Linked DNA regions of Homo sapiens. The protein of the gene in region 2 purifies or fractionates together with the protein of the main gene of each other region. This does not show direct contact. Each region holds a gene or a part of one and is shown on either strand. Other genes may lie near its edges.

Region 1 (3,647 bases), on a different chromosome or scaffold from region 2:
ACGCCAAGGGAGGAGTCCCCCAGGGAGGAGCCCCCCCTTCAGAGGGAAGGACCCACCCTGCTGAGGGCGGCCTCCCCTGGGGGACGGGACAGGGATGGGGCTGGCTCCCGCATACCTTGCGCATCTGGCGGTAGTACTTCTGGTAGTCGGGAGGGTTATCTGGGACCTGGGCAGCATCGAGGGCAAATGTGGAAGCAGAGAACACGTCACCACGGGACGTCCCCATCTGGGACATCGCTGAGACAGACTGGGCAGGACTGGAGAGGCAGAACGTGCCTGGGAGCTTACTCTGCCGGCCACAGCCACCACTGGTGCTGCGAGGCGCGCGAGGGCCTGCACCTGTTTAGCTCACCACCCACAGCTGCTGGGAAACGTGACTGGCCAGCGAGGGCTCAAACCAGCCCAGACGGGACTGGGAGTCAGCACCTGACTCCCCTGTGATCTCCCCACCGGCCAGAAGGCAGGGAGGGGGCCCAGGTCTCTGCGGGTGTGCTCTGTGCCAGGCGCCCCCAATGCCTCCTGAACAACCTCAGCTTCTGGCTGCCTCTCTCACCTCAGTGAGAAGGGAAGAGGCCTGGAGTGCCGTAGGGTTCAGTCAGCCTCCCCAAGTCCCCATCACCCAGAGCAAGTCCTGGGCAGGAGGCAGGAGCAGGAGCAGGCCACCATTGGGCCAGGCACAGCAGGACAATGCCCCTCCTCTGCTTGAGCCCAAGATGGGTGCCAGCCTTGGCCACACAGAGGCCAGGAAGACCCAGAAGCCCTGCAGAACAATGTCCTAGTGAGAGCTGAAGGGAGGGAGACGGGGCTGGGGGGCAGCGGTTCCAGGCAGAGGGACACTGGCTGAGGCCGTGGCCGGGACAGGGTGTGGGAGACACGGGAGGTTGGGGCGCATGTATGGGATGACTGTGGCTGCAGACTGGGGTGCAGGCACGTGTGAGAGACACTGAGGTCAAACTATGGGCTCGGGCAGGGTCTGTGGGCAGCTGATCTGGCAGGAGGGACCGGGGCTTTTGCTGCAAACAGTCTCAGGAGGGCAAGTCCACAGGCTGGCGTCACCTCCATGGGCAGAAGGTGCTTCAGAGACATGGAGGTGCCGTGTAGGCTGTGCAGCTCAGGGTACACAGCCCCTGCCCGTGCCTGGCCCTTGCACACAGTGGCTCCAACATGAGCAGGACGCAGAAACTGCCAGCACCCCCAGCACCCTGCAGGCCTCAGAGAGCTGCCCCAGGTGAGGCCAGCCCGAGGAGGACCGGTGGATGGAGCAGGGGCTAGGGAGGGGATGGGAGGGTGGGGGTGACCTGAAACACCAGTGCAGGAAATAGGGCAGGGTGGAGGTGAGGTGGGCACTTCTGCCTGCAGGAGCTCCCAGCCCTGATCCCCCTCTTCAGCCCCCTCAGAGCCCCAGGCACCGGCCTCACCTGTGAGAGCCTCAGGAACTCATGAGCCTTCTGCAGGCAGGACGAAAACTCGGGCCTGTGGTGCCCGCCCGCCTGGAAGAGACAGCAGGACAGAGAGGCTCAGCTGCCCTTGCACGGCCAGCATGGCTGCGCTGGTTTCCCGATGGTCCTGGCCACATCCTGCCCCAACCGGGGACCAGAATCAAACCAGCAGACATCTCCAGAGAGTGCCAGGGTCTCCTGCTGCACTTACCTTTAAAGACAAAACAGCAAAAGTCCATGAGATATGACTGAAGATGGAAGGGCGCAGGAGACCATTTATGGATGCCAGCACCCCCCTGCCTGGCCAGCATCCATGCCCAGAGGGTCTCCAGCACCCTGTGTAGGCAGGCCCTTTGCGTGGCCCAGCCCTCAGGGCTCTCCAGAAACACCTTCAGAATCCCACCTACCTCATTCCCACCGGCATAAAAATCCACTCTCGTTTTTCTCCAGTACTGGCTCGAGAATGCCCATAACAAACAGTTCCAGTTCTTTTTTTTTTTTTTTTTTTTTGAGACGGAGCCTCTCTCTGTCACCCAGGCTGGAGTGCAGTGGCACAATCTCGGCTCGCTGCACCCTCCACTTCCCGGGTTCAAGCAATTCTCTGCCTCAGCCTCCCAAGTAGCTGGGATTACAGGTGCCCGCCACCACGCTTGGCTAATTTTTGTGTACTTTTAGTAGAGACGGGGTTTCACCATCTTGGCCAGGCTGGTCTTGAACTCCTGACCTCGTGATCCACCCTCCTCGGCCTCCCAAAGTGCTGGGATTACAGGTGTGAGCCACCGTGCCTGGCCCAAGCAGTTCCAGTTCTAAGAAGAGCCTGGAGTCCCACTCCTGCCTGCACTCTCAGAAACAGCCTTCACCAGACTCCCCTTCTCACACAGCCTCCAGCCCCTGCCCTCCCAAGGCCCCCGACCCAGCCCAACACCCAAGGCTGCTGGCCAAGGCCGCCCCCTCCACAGCACGACCCTCTGAAGCCAGAGGCCAGAGCCCAGGTCACTGGAAGTATCGAGGAGTGGCAAGTGTGTGGCCAGCAGTGCTGCCCTCAGGTGGATGCGTGGGCTCACGTGCACAGGAAGGTCAGCTGAGGCTGAGAAAAGAGAAGGAGCCACGAACCTCAAGCAGAGCCTGGATGGCGAATGCGGTGTCCCAGATCTGTGAGCCGTTGGTGCCCTACACACAAAGGATGGTGTTACAGCAGCAGATGCAGCCCCTCCCACTCCCAGCCACTGCCTCCAGGATCCAATGGGCGCCTGAGGGCCAGGTGTGGGGGCTCCCACCCAGCCAACGCTCAGCCTCAGGCTCTGAGCCCTGGGCACCCCTCATGGCTGACAAGGGCCTCAGAGAAGGCTGAGCCCTGCAGGCAGACACACGTCGGGGAGACTCAGGGAGCCCTCCCTTTCTTCATGGGCCACCAGGCAGGACAGTGTCCCTCTGAGGACACTTCTAGGACTGGACGATCCCTTAGAGGCTCCAGCACCTACACATAGAGCATCCAGCTGCTCTCACCCAATGACAGTGGCGCACCTCAGTCATGGTGATGCCTGGAAATGACCCCATTTCTTTTTTTTTTGAGATGAAGTCTCGCTCTGTTGCCCAGGCTGGAGTGCAGTGGCGTGATCTCAGCTCGCTGCAAGCTCCGCCTCCTGGGTTCACGCCATTCTCCTGCCTCAGCCTCCGGAGTAGCTGGGATTACAGGCTCCTGCCAGCACACCCAGCTAATTTTTTTTGTATTTTTTAGTAGCATCGGGGTTTCACCATGTTAGCCAGGATGGTCTCTATCTCCTGACCTTGTGATCCGCCCACCTTGGCCTCCCAAAGTGTAGGGATTACAGGCGTGAGCCACCGCACCTGGCCAATGATCCCCATTTCTGAGTACACCTGGAGGTGATGGGAATTCTGCACAGGGCTGGGAAGGCTCCACCTCAAATCTCACCCCGAGCTGGGCTCACAGGTACACAGCCTGGTCTCAGTTCAAAGGGCCGGTGACCAAACCCTAGTGAGACAGAGCTGGGCACTGACCAGACAGACATGGGGACTGGGCAGGGGGTGGTGTGTGGCAGAGGCATCCAGACATCGTGCACTGGAGGGACAAGGCAGGGACCACCAGAAAAGCATTCTCGCCAAAGAAACACAATGGGATCGAGCCTCAGGGCCTGGCCAGTTTACAAAAACTCAGGGAACATAAGAAGCAACCAGTCAGATCTGCAA
Region 2 (3,647 bases):
TGAAAATTTTAGTGTCATTTTTCACAGTAATAGAAAACACAATTTTGAAACTTAAGTGTAACCTTAAACAACTTTAACACTGATTGGCTGGGCACGGTGGCTCACGCCTGTAATCCCCAGCACTTTGGGAGGCCGAGGTGGGCAGATCACGAGGTCAGATAGAGACCATCCTGGCTAACATGGTGAAACCCCATCTCTACTAAAAATACAAAAAATTAGCCGGGCGTGGTGGCGGGCACCTGTAGTCCCAGCTACTTGGGAGGCTGAGGCAGGAGAATGGTGTGAACCCGGGAGGCAGACCTTGCAGTGAGTAGATATCGCGCCACTGCACTCCAGCCTGGGTGACAGCGAGACTCCATCTCAAAAACAAAACAAAACAAAACAAAACAAAAAAACTTTAACATTGATTGATGGTGATTGTTAGTGCCTGAGGGTGGAAAATACGGAAATGTTGTTCAAAGAGTACAAATTTTTAGTTGTAACTTGAGTAACTCTGAAAAATCTAAAGTACATTCAGCATTAGATCAGCAAAATAGCATTATTTATAGTTAGTAATACTGTAATGTATGCTTACAATTTGCTACAACAGTAGACCTTAAGTGTTCTTACTACAAAAAAACTGGTTATCTACCTGAGGTAATAGATGTGTTCACTAACTTGACTATATTTTATTTTACAATGTATATACATATCAAATCATTATACTGTACACATTATACAATTTTTATTTATCAGAAAAATCCAGGTTGCACATGTATGTACAGTAAGTCCTCACTTTATGTTCAAAATAGGTTCATGAAAAGTGCATCTTTAAATGAACATTGTTGCTATATGTCATGCAAACATAACTCTTGTATTAAATTCTGGTAAAAATTAGTTTACTTAATATGTTGCTTCACTTACTGTTTCCAAGAACCTATCAGCAAAGTTAAGTAAGAATTTATTATACACATATATAACTTATATAGGTATGTGTATGTGTGTGAGACACACATTTTTATATATAGATAGATCTCAACAGAACTTCAGTAGGCTTCCTACTAAATAAGACAAAATTAAAAGATAATAGTTATTAAGAAATAAGGTAATAATTGAGAGCTTACTATACACTTAGCAATGTTCTAAGCTGGTTGATGACAGTGCATTTAAGAAATCTAGAAGGTGAGTAGATACCTTAAATCAGTGGTGGCCAACCCTTTGAATGTGAGGGCATTTTTACTTATCTGTGGTAGTGGATATCACAAAAATTATTCACAAACCTTTTTTTTTTTAAACTCATCAGCTATTATTAGTGTTACCATATATATATATATATATATATATATATATATATTTTTTTTTTTTTTTTTTTAAGATGGAGTCTTGCTGTGTTGCCCAGGCTGGAGTGCCTGTGGCACGATCTCAGCTCACTGCAAACTCCACCTCCTGGGGTCAAGCAATTCTCCTACCTCAGCCTCCCAAGTAGCTGGGATTACAGGTGCGCACAACCATGCCAGGCTAATTTTTGTATTTTTAGTAGAGATGGGGTTTCACCATGCTTGCCAGGCTGGTCTCTAACTCCTGACCTCATGATCTGCCCCCTCGGTCTCCCAAAGTGCTGGGATTACAGGTGTGAGCCACCGTGTCCGGCCACGTTACTGTATTTTATGTGTGGCCAAGACAATTTTTCCTCCAATGTGGTCCAAGGAAGCCAAAAGGTTGGAAACCCATGCTTTAAATAATTTGAAAACTTGCAAAAATAGAGTTTAAATTACAAATCTCAGTTTATATTAAAACAATAACATTTTGAAGTAAAATAAAATTACATTTTTTCATATTTAGGAAAACACTTATTGTTCTGATAAAATTGCTGAGTAAGAATTTTTGTAGAATTACATTTGCAACCTCTATAGGATTAAAAATCACTAAGCAGAAAAGATGCAATACCTGCAACAACTGTCTCTGGTGTTCCTGGGATCTCTGAACCAAATCCCAATATATCCACTAGTCACCGTACACATTTTAGACATGATGCAAAGACAATATTTGAAAAAAAGAAAAACTTTAACATAGAGCTCCTCAATAATACAAATGTTCCCAGGTCCCCAAAAGCAATGAACAGCAGTCAGATCATGTAGCCCTTTGTAAGTGATAAAGTGGACACTGGCACTCCCTGTAAACTTGAAGGGAGATCACTAAAGGAAAAACAGAATTCTTAGATTTAAGAGCATGGGAGAGAAGATGACCCTAAGAGAAAAAATGCAGCCTTTTCAGAAATTATTTTCTTTGTCACAGAGCTTCCCAAACTACATTTATTTATTTATTTGAGACAGAGTCTAGCTCTATATTGCCCAGGAGGGAGTGCAGTGGCGCAATCACAACCTCTGCCTCCTGGGTTTTTTTTTTTTTTTTTGAGACTGAATCTCGCTCTGTCGCCCAGGCTGGAGTGCAGTGGCACGATCTCAGCCGACCGCAACCTCTGCCTCCTGGGTTTTTTTTTTTTTTGAGACGGAGTCTCGCTCTGTCGCTCAGGCTGGAGTGCAGTGGCACGATCTCGGCTCACTGCAAGCTCCGACTCCTGGGTTCACGCCATTCTCCTGCCTCAGCCTCCTGAGTAGCTGGGACTACAGGCGCCCGCCACCACACCCGGCTAATTTTTTGTATTTTTAGTAGAGATGGAGTTTCACCATGTTAGATAGGATGGTCTCGATCTCCTGACCTCATGATCCACCCGCCTCGGCCGCCTCCTGTGTTTTTAAGCAATTCTCTCTGCCTCAGCCTCCCAAGTAGCTGGGATTACAGGCGCCCGCCACCACACCCGGCTAATTTTTGTATTTTTAGTAGAGACGGGGTTTCACTATGTTGGCTAGGCTGGTCTTGAACTCCTGATCTCAGGTGATCCACCCACCTCGGCCTCCCAAAGTGCTGGGATTACAGGCGTGAGCCACGGTGCTCAGCCTCTCAAACAACATTTGAAGGCCTGGCTTCCTTCTTGACTTTTGGCCTCCTTGTCTGTGTCCTCTCCTCCATTCACTCTCACCTACCTGGGGGTCTGGCTGCTGTTTCATGTATCTTCAAATTGTAGGGCTCTTTTCTTTGCTCCAGACTGGTGACCAGGTCTGGGTTAGAGATACTAACACCTGTTTTATTAAAAAAAAAATTAACATGACTATTGCTGGGGATACTCCAATTACCAACCTAGTACTATGCTAAGTAGAATAGAGAAATTAGGGAAGATTCTAGAAAATTAATCCAAAAATTGTTTTCCGACAGAATCTGTAGAATATTTAAGTATTTTAAATCTGTGGGCTTTAAGTTCCACTACCGAGTACTACTGAATCAAAAATAAGTAGTGCAAATTGCATGTTAAGATGTGAAAGACAATTATTTTATATCATTAATTTCTAGAATTACCACTAGCCTAGAGCGAAGGAAACAAATTAGCTCAAAAGAAGGTTTATGTAAAGATGAAACATCCTAAAGATTTTATTTTTTATACCACCAAACTCCCAACTTTTTCGTGAAGGAACTGAAATTAATTCATGCAAAGCAGAAGCTCTCAAGAGACATTCTACAAAGGAAGAAAATGAAATTCTGAAAAAGTATTAGGAATTACATATTAAAGTTATCCTTACCCAGGGAGACCAGGTTTCTGTAGTTCTCCAACA
Region 3 (3,647 bases), on a different chromosome or scaffold from region 2:
AGGAGCCAGTAGGTATGGGTCCACACACACACACACACACACACACACACACACACACACACACGGCAGCAGGCTGGAGACAGCAGGAGAGATAGTCCTGAGGGCAAAGGGACACAGAGGAGGGAGTGACAGGCTCACTGCCCAGGGGACCCAGAGAGCCACCGAAAGGGAAGATGGGCAGGACTTTGAAAGAGGCTAGGCAGTGGCCGGAAGCGGTGGCTCCATGCCTGTAATCCCAGCACTTTGGGAGGCCGAGGCAGGCAGATCACCTGAGGCCAGGAGTTCAAGACCAGCCTGACCAACATGGCAAAACCCCATCTCTACTAAAAATACAAAAATTAGCCGGGCGTGGTGGCGCATGCCTGTAATCCCAGCTGCTTGGAAGGTTGAGGCAGGAGAATCGCTTGAACCCAGGAGGCAGAGGTTGCAGTGAGCCAAGATCATGCCATTGCACTCCAGCCTGGGCAACAAGAGCAAAACCCCATCTCAAAAAGAAAAGGAAAGAAAGAGGCTAGGCAGTATGGGCTGAAGGCCTGGCCCAGGCCTCCCAGGGAGGGGGTGGGAGCAGGAACAACATTTCCTCAGCAGGTCGATGGGTACGGAAAACCATCCTCACCTCCCAAGGCTCTGCTGGGCAAACAAATGAGCAAGGGAGTCATTCCTGGCTGGTGGACAGGACTTTGGACATGGAGGCACAGCCACATGAGCAGAACTGAGCAACTTCCAGCAAGCCTTTGCATCTTTGGGCTTCAGTTTCCCTAGCTCAAAACAGGGAGGTTGACCCAGATTATCTGAGGGCCCTCCCAGCTACCAGAGACTGCAGCCCTTGCTCCAAAAAGCCTTAGGGTCCTCAGGCAAACACCCAGCCTCTCTCCTGCAGGCTTCTCCAATGCATCCATCTTAAGGTTTATCTCAGCCCGGAAGCTCCCGGCTCAGCCCCTCCACAGTCCACCTCCCAAACACCCAGCTCTCCAAGGGTGCCGGGACCTGGGCATGGCACCCACCTCGTCCGCCGCCTCCAGCTTGGGGTCAAACTGGCAGAAGATCTGCTCCAGGTCCTTGCGGATCACGTTGGCCAGCACGTTCAGCCTTCCCCTGGAGCCAGAGGGGCCGGGCTCTCACCTGGCAAAGCCCGCAGGCCTCAGGGTTCCCTCCCCCACTGTGGAGGCCTGGCCTGGCCTAATACAGCCCCTTCGTGCCCAGAGCCCTCCTCAGGCCACCCAATCACCAGGCACCATCCTCTCCTGCTGCTGTAATGGCCCGAGGCTTAAAGCCCCATGCTTTCTTGCTGCCTCAGGCCACTGGGCCAGCTCTGCCTAACTCTCTGACCAGACACTGGGCATTCCCAGGCCCCCCATGACAGACAAACCCCAAAGTCCTGGCAGGCCAGCCACGAATGGGGACCCCTGCACCATGCATTTGGATGCCCTCATGCTGATGTAGCCCTGGGCTAGTCCAACCACAAGCAGCTCTCTGGTCACGGGAAAAGCCCAGGGCCCTTCCCACAGGCCACTCTGCACATCTGCACATGCCCACTCAGCAGGACCCCTGGCCACAGACGTCTCTGTCCCCCAGGGTGCATTCCCCCTCCTGCTTCCCCACAGGCTCCAGCTCAGAGGTAACGCCCCACTGCTGAGCAAGCCTCCTAGATCTTCATCAAGGTCAAGGGAACACGCAGTCAGCTTGCAGCCAGGTCAGAGACCCTCGGCTCACCTCCACAGACCTCCCTGTTGGGGACACAACCCGGGAACAACTGCCCAGGCCCTGCCCTCCCTTCCCTGGAAGAAATCCCTCCACCTCTCCTTGTCCACAGGAACCTCAAGAAGTATAGTGTACCGCTTTCTGAAATCTCACCCTTGCTAGGGACAGAGGCAACATGGCCAGGGAGAGAGGGTGCCTGATAACCTGGTTAGCACCCGGCCCCAGGTGACTCTGGCCAAGTACCCGGCAATTTCTGTGACGAGCAGGCCAGGCCCAGGACTCAGAACTTTCCAGGAAACCCACCTCTACCCCCAGGTCCCACCAACACCTCCGCTCTGATTTCCATCTCATCTCTCCCACCTCTGTCCCCTGGGCTGGAGGAGAATGCGCAAGGCACAGCAGGGAGGGGGACCCACCTGTGTGGCATCCCCAAGATGACATTCTCAATCCCCATCTCGCTGGATTTGTCGATGATGGTCTTGAGGGCAGGAATCATCACTTCACAGCCCTCCAGGCCAAACCGCTTCTCTGAGGACCATTTCCGGGCCAGGAAGTCTTCAAACCTGCTTGGGGAGAGGATGGGAAGAGGAAAGGGAAAGGGATGGAGAGGGAGGGGACTGGGGCTCACAGGGGCTGTTCATGAGTGCTCAGAGCTGAATGCTGAGGACAGAGGAAGTCACAAATCCTCCTTCCACCTACATGGTCCAGGGCCCACCATGGATACACCTGTCCCACCCAGCAAAGGAACACAGGGTTAGGGGAGGCTAGGCATCTTCCCAGCTGAACCAAACGCCTCTGCCTACACCCCTTCCCAGCTGCCGCCCTCTCTCTTCCTCATAGCCAAGCTCCTCCAACAGGCCACTGCCCACCCACTCCTAGCCCACTACCCTCCTGCCACACTCAAGGGCTCTCTTCGCCAAGTCCCAAAGATCTCCACCCAGCCAGATCCAAACTCCAGCCCACACCTCGCTGCTCAGGAATCCACTTTGCATCCAGCAGCTGAGTCAGGTGCTCCCCCAGCCCCTGCAGCCCTGGGGGACCCAGCTTCAGAAAAGTCCAGTGAACAGACAGGTGGTGTGGCCACAGTCACTCCACACCAGGGATAATTTTCTGCCCAAATGTTCCCACAGCCACTTCCCGCCACTTCTGGCCTTGCTCAGTGTCCCCGCTCTCTTGTTCTCCTAGAGCCTCATCCCTGCCCACCTGACCTGCTCTGCCTTGGGCCAGCTCTTGGCCAAACTGCCTAAACACCTGGTCCCAACTCTCCTCCCTGCAGCCAGTGGTGAGGCCGATCCAGTCCTGCCTTCCTGTGGTACCCTCCTGCTCTCTTAGGCAGGGTGTGGGACGTCTCATAGAGCCCTGGAGCAGGACCTCCAGCCACTTGGCCCTCCAGGTGGTGCCAACCTCATGGAGCGCACTAGCCGGGCCAGCAGGGTCCGCTTCTCCTCGCTGGAGAACTGCATCACACCAGGGGTCTCAAACTTCTGCCGGATCCACTGGCACTGCTCCACATCGTTGATGAACATGAACTCCAGGCCAATGTGCTGGCAGTAGGTGTTCTGGGGAGACACATTGGGACCCCATGAGGAGCGGGGAAGAGGGACGGCTGACATCCCTGCTGTCTAGAACAAAAAAGACAGTGCCTTCCCGTCCTCTGGCAAGCTCCAAAGAGCTGCTTCAGCTGCACCCCACACACCCGCCTGTGCTCACCTCCAGGCGCCGAATGATCTCCCGCAGAGAGAGGGTGTTTTCAGAGCCCCCAATGAAGGTGGTTGTCGGCAGCTGGAACTCCTTATCAAGGTCAGCCTCCTGAAGGTCATAGAAGGCTGGAGAAGGAGGCGTGGCCGAGCCCCGGGCAGCAAAGTGGAGGGAGGGAGGTCAGGCCCAGGTGGAGCCCCGCAGTCTCACCAGACCTCCCAGTCTCCCCAGTGCCCTCCCTCTGGGTC

The links.
Region 1: the proteins of ZNF718 (region 2) and LSS purify together in Homo sapiens (affinity purification with mass spectrometry; one large-scale study listed by BioGRID and IntAct). This does not show direct contact.
Region 3: the proteins of ZNF718 (region 2) and OGDHL purify together in Homo sapiens (affinity purification with mass spectrometry; one large-scale study listed by BioGRID and IntAct). This does not show direct contact.

The regions. Positions count from the first base shown.
Region 1 is NC_000021.9:46,208,136-46,211,782, forward strand, and holds part of LSS (lanosterol synthase), read right to left. Parts: intron 2,610-3,647; coding exon 2,553-2,609; intron 1,491-2,552; coding exon 1,419-1,490; intron 167-1,418; coding exon 116-166; intron 1-115. UniProt on the Homo sapiens protein: Key enzyme in the cholesterol biosynthesis pathway. Catalyzes the cyclization of (S)-2,3 oxidosqualene to lanosterol, a reaction that forms the sterol nucleus.
Region 2 is NC_000004.12:130,882-134,528, reverse strand, and holds part of ZNF718 (zinc finger protein 718), read right to left. Parts: coding exon 3,615-3,647; intron 3,120-3,614; coding exon 3,024-3,119; intron 1-3,023. UniProt on the Homo sapiens protein: May be involved in transcriptional regulation.
Region 3 is NC_000010.11:49,748,722-49,752,368, forward strand, and holds part of OGDHL (2-oxoglutarate dehydrogenase-like, mitochondrial), read right to left. Parts: intron 3,528-3,647; coding exon 3,412-3,527; intron 3,261-3,411; coding exon 3,106-3,260; intron 2,265-3,105; coding exon 2,118-2,264; intron 1,096-2,117; coding exon 1,005-1,095; intron 1-1,004.